Regions from separate parts of the Homo sapiens genome. Here region 1 is linked to region 2. Evidence: fine-mapped QTL for protein levels in blood plasma. A gene starts in region 2. The other region holds a variant in brackets. All regions are shown on one strand. Distances are from middle to middle.

Region 1 (8,322 bases), 23 kb before region 2:
CAAACAGGTAGCAGGTGGCATCTGGGAGTCTGGTTGACAGATTTGTAATCCACAGCCAAGCAAGTGAGCTCTGAAAGATGGGGCCTGGAGAAGGTTGCTGAATCTTTTTTTTTTTTTTTTTTTTTTTTTTTGGCAGAGTCTTGCTCTGTCGCCCAGGCTGGAGTGCAGTGGTGCAATCTCGGTTCACTGCAACCTCTACCTCCCGAATTCAAGTGATTTTCCCACCTCAGCCTCCCACCAAGCAGCTGGTATTACAGGCATGCACCACCACACCCAGCTAAATTTTGTATTTTTAGTAAAGACGGGGTTTCATTATGTTGGCCAGGCTGGTCTCAAACTCAGGTAACCTCAGGTGATGTGCCTGCCTCAGCCTCCCAAAGTGCTGGGATTACAGGTGTGAGCCACCACGCCCAGCCAGTTGCTGAACCTTTAAGGGCACTTGCCACGTGCCAGGTATGTCTCATTTGGCCCTCCCAGACATGCCTTTGGCGGGTGGTGGGCGGGAAGACTCTAACATGGTGTCAGCTGGGAGCCTACCTAGCCTGGAATTTAATTCTTCCCCAGCCCCCAATATTTTTGTGGCTTAAGTGAAGTTGAAGCTTCTCTCTAAGATTTCTGTGAACTCCTACAGACTTGTGGGTCCTTGAGCCCCTCTGCATCCATACCTGCTGGGGCAACCCTGCCATGGTCACAGCAAACCAAACACAACTTCCTCTAAGCAAATCCTGTGATCAGTATGGAGATGGCAGGGAGTTGATCTAATCCTGGCCCTATCCCCAGGGCCTCCCAGGAGATCTGTTGCTGTCCTCCTCCTCTATTTTGATGCTACAGACCCAGTGCAGACCCCACAGGTTCCTGATAAGCTCTGAGTCCTTCCTTGGACTGACAAGTTGGCCAAATGACACTGCTTCAGAGGATAAGCAATCCCTCATGTTCCAAAGATGAGAGCTCTCCTGATGTCCCATTTTTGGGTCCCATGAGACTTCAGGATCATCTTCCAGCCTAAAATTGATGTCTGTTTTGCTTCACTTCTCTTGTCCTTCTTTCAAGTCCAGTAGAGCCCATTCCCTCCAGGAAGCTTCCCCCAACTCCCCCAGCACACAAGGACATCTTCTTTCTTTGACCCTCTGTATCCTATTGTCAAACCCATCACGGGAGGCAGGAGAGGAAAGAGGTTACTGGTGCAGGTTCTGAACTTAGCTGTCTGGGTTCAAATCCCACTCCCGCCATCTGGGTGTTGTGTGACCATAAGCAAATTATTTAGTACTTCCAGGCCTTAGTTTCATTGTCTTTAAAACAGAGGGAGTAACAATAATTCCTATCTCATGGGGTTGTTATAAAGATTAAAAGAGATAATGCGTGTAAAGCTATATAGACTAAAATCTGGCATGCAGTAGCTGCTTAATAAATATTACTTATCAATAGCTATTGATATCAACCATTCAATTAGTACTTAATTTCATACTGCTTTATTCCAAGGGTATCAGGGATGACTTGCTGATGTGAACACAGGAAGAGGTCTCTTAATGATAATTGCAGCAACAACGCATCTCTTGCCAGGCACTGGGTTACGGGCTTACTCACATTATCTCTGGGCTTGAAGAACCATCAGTTAACCAGTGAAATAGTGTGGAAATTGTAGCATGTTATGAGGGTAATTTGGTATTTTTTCTGTTTGTTTGTTGTTGTTGTTGTTTTGTTTTGGTTTTTTGTTTGTTTTTTGAGACAAAGTCTCACTTTGTTGCCCAGGCTGGAATTTAGTGGTGCAATCTCAGCTCACTGCAACCTCCGCCTCCTGGGTTCAAGCAGTTCTCTGCCTCAGCCTCCCGGGTAGCTGGGATTACAAGTGCCCACCACCACACCCGGCTACATTTTTTTGTATTTTTAGTAGAGACGGGGTTTCACCATCTTGGCCAGGCTGGTCTTGGACTCCTGACCTCGTGATCCACCCACCTCAGCCTCCCAAAGTGCTGGGATTATAGGCCTGAGCCACTGTGCCTGGCCATGAGGCGTGTACTTCATTTGAAATGAAGTGCAAGTGCAAATACAGGGTTTTAATTTATTGGGGTGTTTTGGGTTTTGTTTGTTTGTTTTGTTTTGGGCTGTGTAAATGGGGACTAGGAGAACTGGAGGGTACAGATTTGCCAAGGTTTTTTCCAGACTTGTCCAGTAGGAAAAGTGTTCTGATTATTTCCTGAGCAAGATCTGAAAATCTGTCAGATGGAGGATCAGCAGAGCTATCCTGAAAACCTGCCATTTAGGATCTAGGTTGTTCAGTCAAATCTCTCCATTAGACCTAAATGGGGCCTGGAAGCAAGAGGCCTGTCTGGTTGTCAGCTGGTTGTACTCACCATGCCTGTCTCCTTTATTTAAATTGTTAAAAGCAAAGGCAAGCTTGACTCCTAGCTCTCTATTCCTTACAAGCTATGTGACCTGGACAAGTTGCTTAACCTCTCTGAACATCTGTTCCCTTATTTGTGAAATGAGGACAATAATGCTTGTGTAATACTTCAGTCCCCTTGAGGATTAAACAAAATAACATAATCAAGAGCATAGCACAGTGTCTGATACTTGGCACACCAATAGCTATTATTATTTTCCTCATCTTGGGACATGAAAACTGCCTCATAAGCTGCTCTCTTCCCAGAGCATTTGCTTTTTATATTATTTTGTTCCATCCTCTTCTACGTTTCCTAGATAAACTTATTTTGACAAATTCTGCCTTGGCTGAACTTTGGGAAAATGAGCATGTCCATCCCTAGAACAGTGATTGGAGGCTGCCTTTTGAGCTCAGCCACCATGGTGGTAGCTGGAAATCTGGGGAAACTGAGGCAGACAGTGATGCAAAACTGAGGACAGGGCCACTTGGGATGGTGAGAAACAGCTCAGATTTTGTTCTCTTCTCCCTTGGGGGTATTAACCTGTGTTCTTGACTCCCCAACAAATTATAAGCCCCTGAGGCACTCTGCCTCAGTTCCTCTGCCTATAAAATAGGAATAATAATGCTATCAACTTCGTAGGGTTGTTATGGGGATTAAATGAGATAATAAACTTATGTGCTTAGCACCAAAGCTTGGCAAATAGTGTGTGCCCAACAAATACTAGCTTTTACCATTTTATGTGTCCACGAGGCCTAACATCGCTGGGCACACAGTGAGGTTCCCGAATCCTGGACTCCACCCCTCAGAGTTGGTGCTTTTCTGCCCTGACTCCCTGCAGTCCACCTGAGTTCAGCCCCACCTTGTTGATTCCATCGGGAGGTGACATTGAAAACCACAGATGCCATCTGTTGGGGATTCTGAATTGTTTCTGGCCCTTATCAGCAGTGTAAAGGGGGCCAGGTTGCGGACAGCTTAATGAGGAAAACAGGAGCTTAGCGGCTGCCAGAGGGCAACAGAGTGCCGGAGTACCAGCCCTTCCTCTGGAGGAGACACTGTCTGCCCAGGCTCTTGGCTGA[C/T]GCACGTCGTGAGATCTGACTTCCTCTCTCTGTTTTCTTTTCAATACAGAATAACTTTCCCTACCTCAGGCCCTCACCACCCACTCTCTGGCCCAGCCTCTACCTTGGAAACAGGGTTGAAACATTTGGGAGCTGCCCCATTCATCAGGCATCCCATTTGGATCATTCAACAGTCCCCAGTACTTCCCCACTTCCCCCTTCTCTCTCTCTTGTCCCATGAGGAGTATCCATGGCAAACTCAATAAGACCTAAGATCTTTACCTTCATTTTCTCATTCAATCATTTCTACAGTCCTATGACATAGCTCTTATCCATCCCATTTTTACAGAAGCAGGAGCAGAGTCTCAGAGGTTCAGATCTTTGCCGAAGGTCACACGGCTAGAATAGGGAGCAGCTAGATTTGAATTCAGGCCTTCTGGCACCTGCTCCCTTGTTCCTCTGTACCTGCCTTCCCCTGGGGGAGGATGGCAGGATGGCAAGTGCCCAGTGCTCACAGAGCAGTGTGCTGGATGAGGGGCAGAAGGGAGACGGGGGAAGAAGGGAGGCTACTGTTGCATAGTTTGCCTTAGGACAGCCTTGACTGATGAAACCACCTTCCAGGCTCCAAGAGATTTTTCTCTCCATAGCTGCTCCTGATCTGGCTTAGAGACAATTGCCTCTGCCTTCTTTATCTCTGAAGCCTTCCCCCCAGCCCCACCTACTTGGCTTTTGACTCCTTGCAGGGTTGCAAAGGGGCCTGCAATGCCTGCACTGCCTGTCTCCTGCTTGGGGGGCTCTGGGTTCAGCTGCTGTCTCTAAGCTGGTGGCTGCTTTTGGCTTCTGCTCCAGGAGCTGCAGACGGGCCAGCAGGGGGTCTCCAGAGAGGCCAGACCCTGGAGTTAGTTAAATGAGGACCAGCTGGGTTGAAGCAGGAACGTTTTAGCCTTCCTGAGGCAGACGGAGCCTCAGCCTCAGACCCCTGCCATGCAAGCCCTTTTCCCATCACCCACTCTCTACTCTACTTCTTGGGGCTGAAGTTGTTGATATATTTCAGGCCCTGCCTCCCCAGTCCCTTCCCCCTGCAGCCCTGCTTAGAGGGCCAGCTGACTGCTCTCCCGTCCTGCCTGTCTGCCCTGGTAGTTGCCCTTCAAGCTGGGTAGTAGCTGTAGATATCAGGAGGTGCTGCTGTTCTCCAGGGCTTGGGAAAATATCCTACACTTGACCTTTCCCCCCGGCGGGGAGAGGAATGTTGAGGCCAGAGCTGAGTGGGATCTGCTATCCTGGCAGGCGGCCTGCCTGCGCCTCTGGATGAATGATGGGGATGGGCTAAGAGGGTCAGAGACTCTCCCAGCACAGGCAGAAAAGACTGAGTGCCCCAGACTGGGCCAACCTCTCATCTTTGGGGTCCATTCCCCATGCCAGAGCCCTGGGCTGGCTCTCAAGGCTGTCCCCATCATTCCTGAAACACTGAGCTGTCTGCAGTGTCCTCAGAGTCTGTCACCGCATCACACTCTCTCCAGGGAGGCTGGATTAGCTGCCCAGAGTTAACAGAGAGGGCACTGGGAGGGGGCAATTGTTGATTCTCAGTCTTCACATCTGAAAATGGCAATAGGGCTGGATTTGTGGTTTTCAAGCGGTATTCGGACAAGCCCCAACGTTCCTCCAAGATGCCTCAGAGGCTATAAGGCAAAGGGAAGTATGTGTGTTGGGGTGTTTGGGGAGAGATCAAGGGCGGGCCCCTTTCCAGCCACAGGAGCTCCCCAGTTTCCTGTTCACATCTTGGATCTGACTCCTGAACCCCTGGCAGTCTGGTCCCTGAATCCCTAGCCCCTGCATCCCACACTACTCTGCTTGCCTTGCCTGTGAGTTCCTCCAGCACAAGAGCCTTCCTACCTCCAGGATCTTATGACATCTCCTCCTGACCGTCCTCCTCCATACCTCCTTTCTGAGTTCTGTGCACCCTTCAGATCTCAGCTCCAATGTCATTCCTTTGGGGATACCTTCCCCAAATCCCCTCCCAAGTCTGTATTAGGTCATCTAGCTGCATACGTCTCTTTCTTAGCTCTACTTCAATTGCAGCTCACTGTTGATCTACTTATCTAATTATTTTCCCAGTGTCTGTCTCCTCCACTACACTGTATGCTCACAAGGGCTGGAATCAGGTCTGGATTGCATGCTGCTGTATCCCCTAGCACAGCACCTGGGACAGAGTTGGCATTCAGTAAATATTTGTTGAATGCTGAAACACTGCACAAAGGTTTTGCTCAAAAAAAAAAAAAAAAAAAAGTTGAAAACCGCTGGCCTAGAGGCTCTCTCAGTCAGTCCCCTTCCAATTCCATTTTTTTTTTCTTTGAGACAGTCTCGCTCAGTTGCCCAGGCTGGAGTGCAGTGGTGCGATCTTGGCTCACTGCAACCTCTGCCTCATGGGTTCATGCTATTCTCCTGCCTCAGCCTCCTGAGTAGCTGGGATTACGGGTGTGTGCCACCATGCCTGGTTAATTTTTGTTTTTAGTAGAGATGGGGTTTCACCATGTTGGCCAGGCTGGTCTCGAACTTCTGGTCTCAAGACATCCACTTGCCTTGACCTCCCAAATTGTTGGGATTACAGGCGTGAGCCACCGCGCCCTGCTCCCTTCCAATTCTGCATCCACATCCTTAAAACTTGGATGCAATTACCTTCACCACCAAAATATTTCTGGCCCTCCCCATTAAAACTTTACCTGGCCTTTTCTTAATTTCCATGGTGTTTAGAAGGGAGTGATGTAAACAGTAATGGGAAGAAAAATAAAGGAACTCCAAGAAAGGCAGGGTATTAGCCCCCTCCACCCACTAGAGAAGCAGATGGGGGTGGGGAAGACAGCCATGTGCTGGAAGAAGAGGACAGGGCCCAGCACTCAAACCTCCTCTGAGTCTCAGGGGGTTTGTTTGTCTCAGGACACACCTGTCCCACATCCATTGAGCTGCCTGGCAGGGGAGGAGTTCGCTGCCACTTAGGCTCCAGTGACCATAGCTCTCAGGCCAGCTGTTTCCTTGCCTTTGAATTAGTGGCTGACCCTGTGTTGTCTCCTGCCTGTTCCAAGCAGCCTGGGAGACTTCCAAGCATGTCTTTTACAGGCCAGATGTGTGTCCACTGGCTGTGAATTCTTGTATGGAGAACAGGTGGGTGGTAATTATTCTAGCAGGAGCTGAGCGTGACTGGAAGCTAAGGAGACAATTCTATGGAGCTGTCAAGAACAGAAACAATGTTCTTTTCCTGAGCTTGCTTTTATAGGAGGAGAGGGAGATGCAATCCAGGGCTGTGGCAGGAGCCTTGGCCCCTATGGCAGGTTCTGCAGCGTCCTGGAAATTCCCATCCCCCACCCCATCCATCCCCCACCTCTCTCAATTGACATCCCATGTGTAGAGAACATCTGCTGTGCACATATGCCCAGCACTTCTTCCCTTCCTTGAGTAACAGAAACTCAGCTTTCCTTTGGGAAACTCAAACTCCCCAATTCCATGCATTCCTGGTGGGGCTGCCAGCCACAGGACTCTCCCAACCCTCCATTCTCAAAGGGTGAGCATAGACCCAAGATCTGTCAGACTTTTTCCTGGGGAATTTGAATCTGAGTTGGAGTCATTACCCATAATGGAAGGCAGTTGCTTTAGAATCATCCAAAGCCAGACAGCTCATGAGTTCCCGCTACCCAGACCCCCAAAGCTGCCCTGGTCCCTTCTCAGGCCTGAGTGTTGAAGGCCTCCTTCAGTACCATGTATCTTTCCAACAAATTCTCTTTCGCCACTTATGTTTGCCAGAGCCAGCTTCTGTAACTTGCAGCCAAAGCTGATGTGTATCCCATACGCTTGTATCCCAGCCTTCTTTTCCAGCCCTTTCTCTTTCTCATGTTCTACCTGAAAATCCATTTTTACTTTCCACACCCTGAAAACCTTTATGCCCCCTAACCTTTTTCCCCTGTCAAGAACGCTTAGGAAAGAGTCTATCCCCAATCTTTTTTTTGGGAGGGGGGGCGGCGGGAGGGAGTCTCACTCTGTCGCCAGGCTGGAGTGCAGTGCCACGATCTCAGCTCACTGCAACCTCTGACTCCTGCGTTCAGGCAATTCTCCTGTCTCAGCCTCCCGAGTAGCTGGGATTACAGGTGCCTGCCACCACGCCCAGCTGATTTTTGTATTTTTAGTAGAGATGGGTTTCACCATGTTGGCCAGGATGGTCTTGATCTCCTGACTTCATGATCCACCTGCCTTGGCCTCCCAAAGTGCTGGGATTACAGGTGTGAGCCACCGTGCTGGGTCTTTACCCAATCTTTATACTTCAGAGTAAATGAAAACATTCTCTTTGATCTCCTCTTGGGCAGATGCATTTCTAAGTGCTGACCGAGTGCCTTAGCATCTTGTTTCAGAAATCAGAAGTATTCGTGAAGAGGTGGGAGAGAGATTTCAGGGGGCAGAGTAGACTTTCCCTAAAACGCCCTGCCATGAACCCTGACCCCTTCTCCCCTGCACTTATCCGTCACTTGGATGCAGTGGGAATTGCCTTGTCCCAGACCTGGTCTGTTGGGCAGCTGTTTATATCGGTTCTCTGGGAATTATCCCCTGATACTCATTAAGTTTTGTTCCCACTGGAGTTACCTGCCTCAAGCTGTAAGATCACAATTCCATGCAACTAAGCACCTCCAGTGTGTGTAAGGTTCTGAGTCAGGTGTCTGAGATACAGCTGTTCATGTTTGCAGTCTTGTTGAGCAAACAGAGCCAAACCCACCATGCTGACTACATGAACTGAATGCTGTGGGAGAGCTGAGCCCATGGCCCTAGGATTGCAAAGCAGGGAGGGCTGGAGTCCACCTAGCCTGTCTCTCTCAGCTGGTATATAAATTGGAGTTCTTTTTTTT
Region 2 (8,264 bases):
CTTGAGGAGAAGTTATGCTTCAGGCTCCCCCGGGGGTTTAGAAGATTCCTCCACCCCTCCACCCCCAGCCAGGGACTGAAGGAATTTATGCAGGTAAATAGGAAATGACATCTCAGCTTATAGTGAATGGCACGGAGCTTTCAGATCAGCCCACCCATGCACCAGAGACTGGAAATGAAGGGAAGCGAAGTGAACTAAGTGATTTGAAAGAGCTGCCCATTTCCCATCATTGCAGGACACCCTGGTGTGAGTGCAGTGTGCTGCAGGGAAAACAGCATGGACTTTGGAGTTGTTCAGACTTTTTAGTTGAATCCTGGCTCAACTCCCAGCTGTGTGGCCTTGAGCAAGCGACTACCCCTCTGGGCTTGTGAAATGGGAATGGCAACACCTCTACCACACAGAGCTAAATAGACATTGTATGTATGTCATTTCTCTTTCCCAAAGAGAAAAGCTACGAGTTGAGATGAGCTCTATTCAGCAACTGCAGACTACTTGATGGAGGTGGGGTGAGTGTGGCTGTGACTTCCTTCCTTCTTCTCTGTGGGTGCGAATCAGATTCACCGCCCTGACTCAGAGCGGACCCCTAGCTGGTAAACAGGCCTGAGGAGAATGGGGGATGCTTGGTGGGGGCTGACCTGTGACCACAGTCCCATGCAGCCATTAGCACCCCCACCACACCACAAACAGCTGTGCATGCTTCCAGCTCTGAGAAAAATGCAGCTGTCGGTGGTCTCCCTTCCCCTGGAAGCTGGCATTGGTTTAGCATCTGGGACCAGACAAACCAGGAGTGAATCCCAGCGCAGCCACCTACTGGCTTGTGACTGTGGATGAGTCATTTACTTCCCCGAGCCTTCATTTCCTCATCTGCTATGTGGGGAAATAATAGCACTTCCTTCATCAATAGCGCTTCTCATTAAACAAGGAAGTGACTATAAGATGACTTGGCACAGTGCCTGGTACCTTCTGAGTGCTCAAGAAATACCAAGGCTGGATGTGGTGGCTCACACCTATAATCCCAACACTTTAGGAGGCCGAGACGGGAGGATCACTTGAGTCCAGGGGTTCAAGACCAGCCTGGGCAAAATGGCAAAACCCCGTCTCTACAAAAAATACAAATTAGCCAGGCTTGGTGGCGTGCACCTACAGTCCCAGCTACTTGGGGGGCTGAAGCTGGAGGATTGCTTGAACCCAGGAGGTGGATGCTGCAGTGAGCCGAGATTGTGCCACTGCACTCCAGCCTGGGTGACAGAGTGAGACCCTGTCTCAAACAAACAAACAAACAATAAATGAAATATCAGTTGGTAAATGGAGGAGTAGTAATTGACACCTGCCCCTAGCCCCATGACAGGGTAAACAGGGCTGGCTAGCTAGTTTGTCCTGAAGAGAAAAATGGCAAAAAGAACATCATTATCTCAACTTTCAGATAAGAAAGTAGAAGCCAAATGAAGCTCAGAACTGTGCTGCATTCACAGAAGACGGAAATGAGCTCAGAACTGTGCTCCGCTCACAGAAGACGTAAATGTTCACCACATGTTTGTGGGAGGGCCCTTTCCAGCACACTCTGAAATACAGGCCAGCTCACCTTACCTTTGCAGGAACATCCATACCATGGCTATCACCACCAGCCAGCATGTCATACCCACTTGGAGGAGACAGGCACCGGCAGACCAGGGCAGGGTGGTTGTGAATTCTTGAGGGGACGCCAGGTCATGGCACCTAAGGTGGAATGGTTCTGGCAGCCTTTGCGGGCCTTAACAACCTCACACAGGAGGGAGTCGGCACCTCTCTGTACGGCCTGCACCTTCCAAACTGGAGGCTGAGGCTGCGCAGTGCTGGGGTCCCAGCTGCCCAGTGTCTGGAGCAGAACATCCAAGCCCATGAGCGGCTCCCGTCTGGAAGGCTGGGGGCCCAGTCAAACTTTCCTTCAGCGATTCTGCCCTCTGATTAACCAGGAAATGTGTTATTTGTTCTGAGCAGGGGAACAAGCTCTCCTGGGGAGAGGAATTCAGGGCTGGAGGTCCAGTTACTTCCAAGCAAGAAAAATCCCTGGAATTCTTTCAGGAGTCTGGGTCTCAGCAAAGGGGGCCGAAATGTGGCCCTTGTTTTTGGTCCTTATTTACCAAATTAGCTCAGGTTCTGGTAGACCTCTGGCTGCCAACATTATTCCAGTGAGACATGGAAAAGCAGTGAGTTTGCCCTGGGAGTCCAGGAGACTGCTGTCCCTTGCATGGGGCATGTGTCTGGGCAAACCTTTCCCTGCTGGAATCTCTTTATCAACCCTTTAGACTCTCTCTGCCGGGTTTTCCAGAGATGATTTTCCTCTCCAGACCCAAGAGATGGGTGAGTAGGCTTAGCAGCGATCTAATGAGGGAGAAGGCTTTAATCAGGGGGTGGGGAAGTGACACACGGTGAGTCAGCGGCCATGCTGAAACAGCTTCCCTTCTTTCACTGGGCCAAGAGGATTAAGGGTGGCAGAAAGTTCTGATAACTCCACATCTCCAGGTACATGAGCTCCAGGTACATGAACAGTGGGCTGGCAGGCAGGGAAGAGGGCATTTGGGGATATGCCCTAGAGCTCCTTTGGTGGTGATAGTGGTGGGGTGGTTGGAAAGGTCATGATTCAATTGTGAAGAGGGCTCCAGGCTTACAAGCCCGGGGTGGAGGCAAGGCGGTGTAACCTTAAAAGCTTGGGCTCAGGTGGAAAATGATCCAGGTTTGAATCCTGCCTCTGCTATTTATCAGCTGTGCCATCTTGGGCAAGCCAGTAGCCATTGCCAACCTCAGTTTCCTCCTTTGTATGCGTGGAAATCATAATGCCTCCTTTGGTTGGTTAAATCAGCCAATTGATGTAACATGCTTAGTATGGCGTTTGGACTAAAGTAGGCTCTATCGATTTTGGCAGGTTAAAAAAAAAAAGCAAAACTCAAGTGTTTGTGGGATTGGAGATTCTGAAGAGCTGCAATCAGTCCCAGCAGTTAGAGGGTAAGGGAGATATGGGCAGTAAGTAGGTGGCAGGACAGAGTGTGGCGCCGGGATGGGGTAGAAGATGCCAGTCTTTGGAGTAGATGAACTGGGTTATGGTCCCCAGGCGAACAGGGTGGGAACGTCCAAGGACCACTTGTACTCACTGAGGAGTGGAAGGGGCGCCCGATGGTGAGGGAAAGTTGGTCTGCGTGAGGGTTTTGGCGGAGGCGAAGGGTGAGGGATGAATGGGCGGCAGACTTCCAGAAATGCAGACGGAGGAGACGGAGCAGTAATAATGACTTGGACACACAGGAGGAAAAAATAGCTCAGGGACGAAGATGATGCCAAGGTTTCTGGCTTTTGGAGGCCCACGGGGATCTGAGGTGGGTCTTGAGGGATCTAGAGGGGAGCTTCTGAAGGAAGTGGGTAGGTTCCGGGGAGAGGAAGGGAGCCCAGAACTACAGAGGTGGGTGGATATCTGGGCAAGGAGAGGTAAGTGTGGACCTGGGGCTTCCACAGCTGTGAAGGAGCAGCATCCCAGGAACAGAACGCAGCATTCTGGGAACTAAGGGGCATTCATGGTCAAATGCAAGGGGTAGGGTTCAAGGAGATCTTTAGAGCCAGCCCCAAAGGCAGCAAGCACATGAACCTGGATCAGGAGCTGCCACCCAGAACTCAGTTCCTCTCTCTTAAAATGGGTCTAATGATACCAGCCCTCCCCACTTGATGGGATTACTGTGTCCTTCATTCAGTTAGCTATCCATTTCACACATACTTCTTGGCTGTTCTAGGTTCTGCAGAAACAGTGGTGAGCAACGCAGACAAGATATCTGTTGCTTTAGAGCTGTCATTGTGGTTTGGGAAGTCAGACAAGAAATGATTTTATAGGTTGTTGAATAGGACTTTTCCTCTGCTCTTGGAATATCTGCTGAAGCCACAAAGATAGAACAATGAGGGCTAAATATTCTTGCATTCTGAAGAGAAGTACTAGACACCTTACTAAAGGCAGAACAGGTTCAACAGCAATCAAACTACATCCCTCAATTCCAGTCTACAAATGAAAGGGATTGAAGAAAGTCACTGAAGCATAACACTGCTGCATTTGTGGGCAGGGCTGAGATTTCCCCTGAGGGAACTCCCCAACTCAAACCAAATGAAGGGAGCTCCCAGAGAGAACCAGTCATCTGCAAGAAGAGGAGGCTCTGTCCCTATAACTGTCCCCCCACTGATGCTGACTATGTTGCTGGATGTTACAGGCACCTCGGTGCATTAAACTACAGCAAGACAGTTCATGGGAGAACCCAACATATGTCTTTAGGAATTGAGGACGTACATAAATGAAGAGACTTGTGTGCACTTCCTGTCTGGAGAATTCTGATCGTGGAGCCTCGCTGGAGTGGCCTGTGTGGCAAGGTGAGAAGTGGGCAGGGTGAGGAGCGGCCAACCCACCATTGTTTTGCCTGGCATAGGTGGGACAGTCCTATGAGAGACAGAGGATGCAGGGGTCTCCGAGAGGTTGGCCAGAGAGTAATTTGCTATGGCAACTCAGGGTGGAGGTCCTGTAGAGAACCTCCCAAAAACCCACATATGTGCCCATGAAAAAGCCAGCGCTTGGCACCTGCCAACCAAGGGTACCTGTCACATAAGACTTTGCTACTTTTCCTCTAACACCTCTCTCCCAGCCTTGACAAAGAGGAGCCACAGCAGAAAAGGGAGGTCAGGAAAACAGACCACACCCCACTCTCACCACTGCAGGATCTCTAGCAAAGGGACAGGGGAGAGGAGGACTATTAAATGGGATGTGATATTGATTAACTTGGATGAGATTTTGATCTGGACAGGAGCAGACTTTTTGTGTCTGAAAATGGGTCTTAATTATATTAATAGAATAGTTCTCGTGTCTGGTAGGGATGACCTCTCAAGCCAAGGACTCTGCCTGAGATGTCATTAAGGGTGGGAAAGGGAAATTTACCATAATATGGTTGAAGGTAGTAGTGGAGCAGTTTCTGGATAGTCCCTCTTTAGGTTCAGCCCATTAAAAAATTCAGTTACACGAGCAAACAAATCAATAACAAGATGATGTCAACTGTTTTATGAAGATGAAACAGGGTGGTGTGTTAGAGTCATGACTGGGGTGAGGGAGGGCTGCTCTAGATTGGAGGTCAGGGATGGCTACTCCAGGAGCTGATATTTAATCTGAGAGGAGCAGTGATGAGGAACTACCCTCTAACATCCTGGAGAGGAACCTTCCAGTAGAGGGAAGGGGGCATTCACTTGGCTTGTTCAAGGAGCAGAGAGAGGGCCAAGGCAGCACAGTGTGGTGGGTAAGGGAGAGCAAGAGGCCAGATGAAATCAGAGCGGGGGCAGCCAGCTAGGGTTTGTAGGCCAAGGCCAGGGGTCGAGGCTTTATTTCAACAGTAGATATTACCTGGGCTTGTCTTTTGTGTGGTGTGGGAGGTTGTGAACTGGTGCCCACATGCCAGCTCCTTCACTCTGCCTCTCTGGGAAATAGGCTGTACAAATGTGCCAGGGGCAGCCCTGTTGATCCAAGCCTTTAGGCTGTAGGGAGGGAGCATGGGTGAGAATGGTGTGCTGATTACTGGGGACACGCAGACAGCGGCAGTCAGCATTCCCACACCCCTGCCCGCCTCCCTGCTAACACAAGATGTGAATGCACACACTGGGTCAATCGGGGTCACCGAATCCCCCTCTGGGAAATTCCCGAGAGAGTGAAGGGCTGGGTGGGATCCCGGGAATGGATTCAGCCAGAGGCGGGAGGCCTAGATTCCACTCCCCTCTTTCACATGCGCTATCTCCTTGAGTGACTTACTCAAGAGGCTCCGTGTCTTTGCCTCGGTGAAAAAGAGGACCCCTTGGCCGGGCGTGGTGGCTCACGCCTTTAATCCCAGCACTTTGGGAGGCCGAGGCGGGCGGATCACCTGAGGTTGGGAGTTCGAGACCAGCCTGACCAACATGGAGAAACCCCGTCTGTACTAAAAAATAAAATAATATACAAAATTAGTCAGACTTGGTGGCGCATGCCTGTAATCCCAGCTACTAGGGAGGCTGAGGCAGGGGAATCGCTTGAACCCGGGAGGCGGAGGTTGCGGGGAGCTGAGATCGCACCATTGCACTCCAGCCTGGGCAACAAGAGCGAAACTCCGTCTCAAAAAAAAGAAAGAAAGAAAGAAAGAAAAGAAAAAGAAAAAGAAAAAGAGGACCCCTCTTCTACCGGCAGCCATCACCGCGCCAGGCTCAGGCGTGACCCTCACGCCAGTGGAAGGGGATTGAGATCCAGAGCGAAGGCGGCGGCGCCAGGGCATTGCAGCCACGGAGCGCCAGGGCCGCCAGCTCCGCCAGGGGGCGCGCCCGGGACCTCCCTGCGCTCCGCGCGCCGCGCCCCGCCCCGCGCCACCCCCGCTCCGGCCGGCCCTGCGGAGGGCGCCCCCAGCGGCCAGGGCGCAAGCGGAGGGGGCGGCGGCCCTGTTCCCCTACGCGGGCCTCGGCGCCCCTCCCGGCTTCCTTCAGACCTGCAAGGCTGCAGCCTGGGTCCCCCGATCCAAAGACGGTCCCTGAGGCGAGGGGCGGGAGAACGATTCGGGGCAGGTCTGCAGTTCGAACTTGCCCAGAGCAGGAGAAAGGCGGCCCAGTGTCCCGGTCGTGGCAGGCGCCATCTGCCCGACCAGCGCCTGGGTCAGCCCCGCGCCGCCCCCTGCTCCGCACGGGTTAATCCCCCTCGCCGCCCGCTCGCCGCCCGCTGGCTTCCCGGTGCCAAAGTGGGTGTTGCTGGAATTCCTCGCTCCCTCTCCGGTAATGAGGGGGCTGAGCTGTCCCTCCGAGGAGGGGGCCTGGTGTGGATAAAAGAGACGAAAAAGCCGGGGGAGGTTTCCAAAAATAAAACCGTCCGGGTCCCCTTCAGACGGCTGCAGGCACAGGGAGGAGGCGCGAAGGTGCAGCAGCCGTGCGAGCCCAGCTGGAGTAGGAGCGCGGACTCGAGGCTCGGGGCGCGCAGCCCTCGTTCCGCCGAGAGCCGGGCCCCCAGTCGGCCGCTTCAGGGCCCCCTAGACTCAGAGAAGCTGGCCGCCGGGCGGGGCCGGGAGAACAGCCCGCGGGCGTCCAGCGTGCCGACCACAAAGCTCTTCGCGGTGCCCGCGCGCACCACTCTCCAGCCGCCCCGCGCCATGAGGCCGCGGACCAAAGCCCGCAGCCCGGGGCGCGCCCTGCGGAACCCCTGGAGAGGCTTCCTGCCGCTCACCCTGGCTCTCTTCGTGGGCGCGGGTCATGCCCAAAGGGACCCCGTAGGGAGATACGAGCCGGCTGGTGGAGACGCGAATCGACTGCGGCGCCCTGGGGGCAGCTACCCGGCAGCGGCTGCAGCCAAGGTGTACAGTCTGTTCCGGGAGCAGGACGCGCCTGTCGCGGGCTTGCAGCCCGTGGAGCGGGCCCAGCCGGGCTGGGGGAGCCCCAGGAGGCCCACCGAGGCGGAGGCCAGGAGGCCGTCCCGCGCGCAGCAGTCGCGGCGTGTCCAGCCACCTGCGCAGACCCGGAGAAGCACTCCCCTGGGCCAGCAGCAACCAGCACCCCGGACCCGGGCCGCGCCGGCTCTCCCACGCCTGGGGACCCCACAGCGGTCTGGGGCTGCGCCCCCAACCCCGCCGCGAGGGCGGCTCACGGGGTGAGCATGGGAGAGGGAAGTTTGGAGGGTACAGAGGGGAGCCAGGGCTCATTTGTGGAGGGGCGTGCAGGCGAGAGGAGAGGGCGCCGCTCTCATACCCTCGTCCCTCTGTCTTTAGTACTTCGGGAAACAGCCCCGAGGTTCCAAAATCGGGATTGGAAGATTTGATCCGCTTTCGAAGAGTTGAAGGCAGATAGATCATCATCCTCATCCTTTCTTACCAACTCTCCCGGAGCCCCGACGTTAAATCCTTTCGCAAGGCGCCTCTCCACTCGCCCGCGTTCCTCCTGCCTGCAACTAACGAGCTCTTGTAGACTCTTGCAGCGCTGCCGGGATCTGAGAGGCAGCGGGGAGAGGGCAGGAGGGTGGGCGCTCCAGGCTCTTGACGCCCAGGGGAGGTTGAGCTGGCTCAGAGCGCGGGTTGGCGGAGGTGTCGGGGGCCCCATGGAGAGAAGGTAGATGCGTCTCCAGGAGGGGAGCCGGCAGCGAAGCTGGTGCGTCGGGACAAGTGTCGTGGGGCGTGGGTCGGCCTGCGCACGCTGAGGGCTGGATGCGGGCGTGGGCGTGAGCTCTGGGTACTTTGGGCGGGAAGCGTGTCCTGATGAGGCTGCGACACAGTGGGCGC

Which allele goes with the higher level. Alleles are on the strand shown, and positions count from the first base shown. The strength of an association depends on the size of the effect and on how common the allele is.
For the plasma level of the protein whose gene starts at base 6,853 in region 2, allele C in region 1 goes with a higher level than allele T (moderate association).

Evidence for each region. PIP is the posterior inclusion probability: the model's chance that the variant is causal. The UK Biobank Pharma Proteomics Project read protein levels with antibody pairs (Olink). The fine-mapping took linkage between variants from a reference panel, not from the people measured, so its PIPs are less certain.
Region 1: its variant is fine-mapped to the plasma level of the LTBP2 protein (UK Biobank, PIP above 0.99).

The regions. Positions count from the first base shown.
Region 1 is chr14:74,633,338-74,641,659 of GRCh38, reverse strand. No RefSeq gene overlaps it. Among named protein-coding and RNA genes, the nearest start is that of LTBP2, 25 kb to the right of the region's middle. RefSeq lists a silencer at 6,320-6,614. The variant C/T (reference allele first, on the strand shown) is at 3,458.
Region 2 is chr14:74,610,826-74,619,089 of GRCh38, reverse strand. It overlaps LTBP2 (latent transforming growth factor beta binding protein 2), which reads left to right and starts at 6,853. Exons shown (of 36, transcript NM_000428.3): 1 at 6,853-7,639. The coding sequence starts at 7,146. It overlaps LOC101928352 (a long non-coding RNA gene), which reads right to left and starts at 5,905. Exons shown (of 2, transcript XR_944029.4): 1 at 5,795-5,905; 2 at 5,042-5,523. RefSeq lists enhancers at 362-1,561, 6,170-6,797 and a silencer at 6,223-6,542.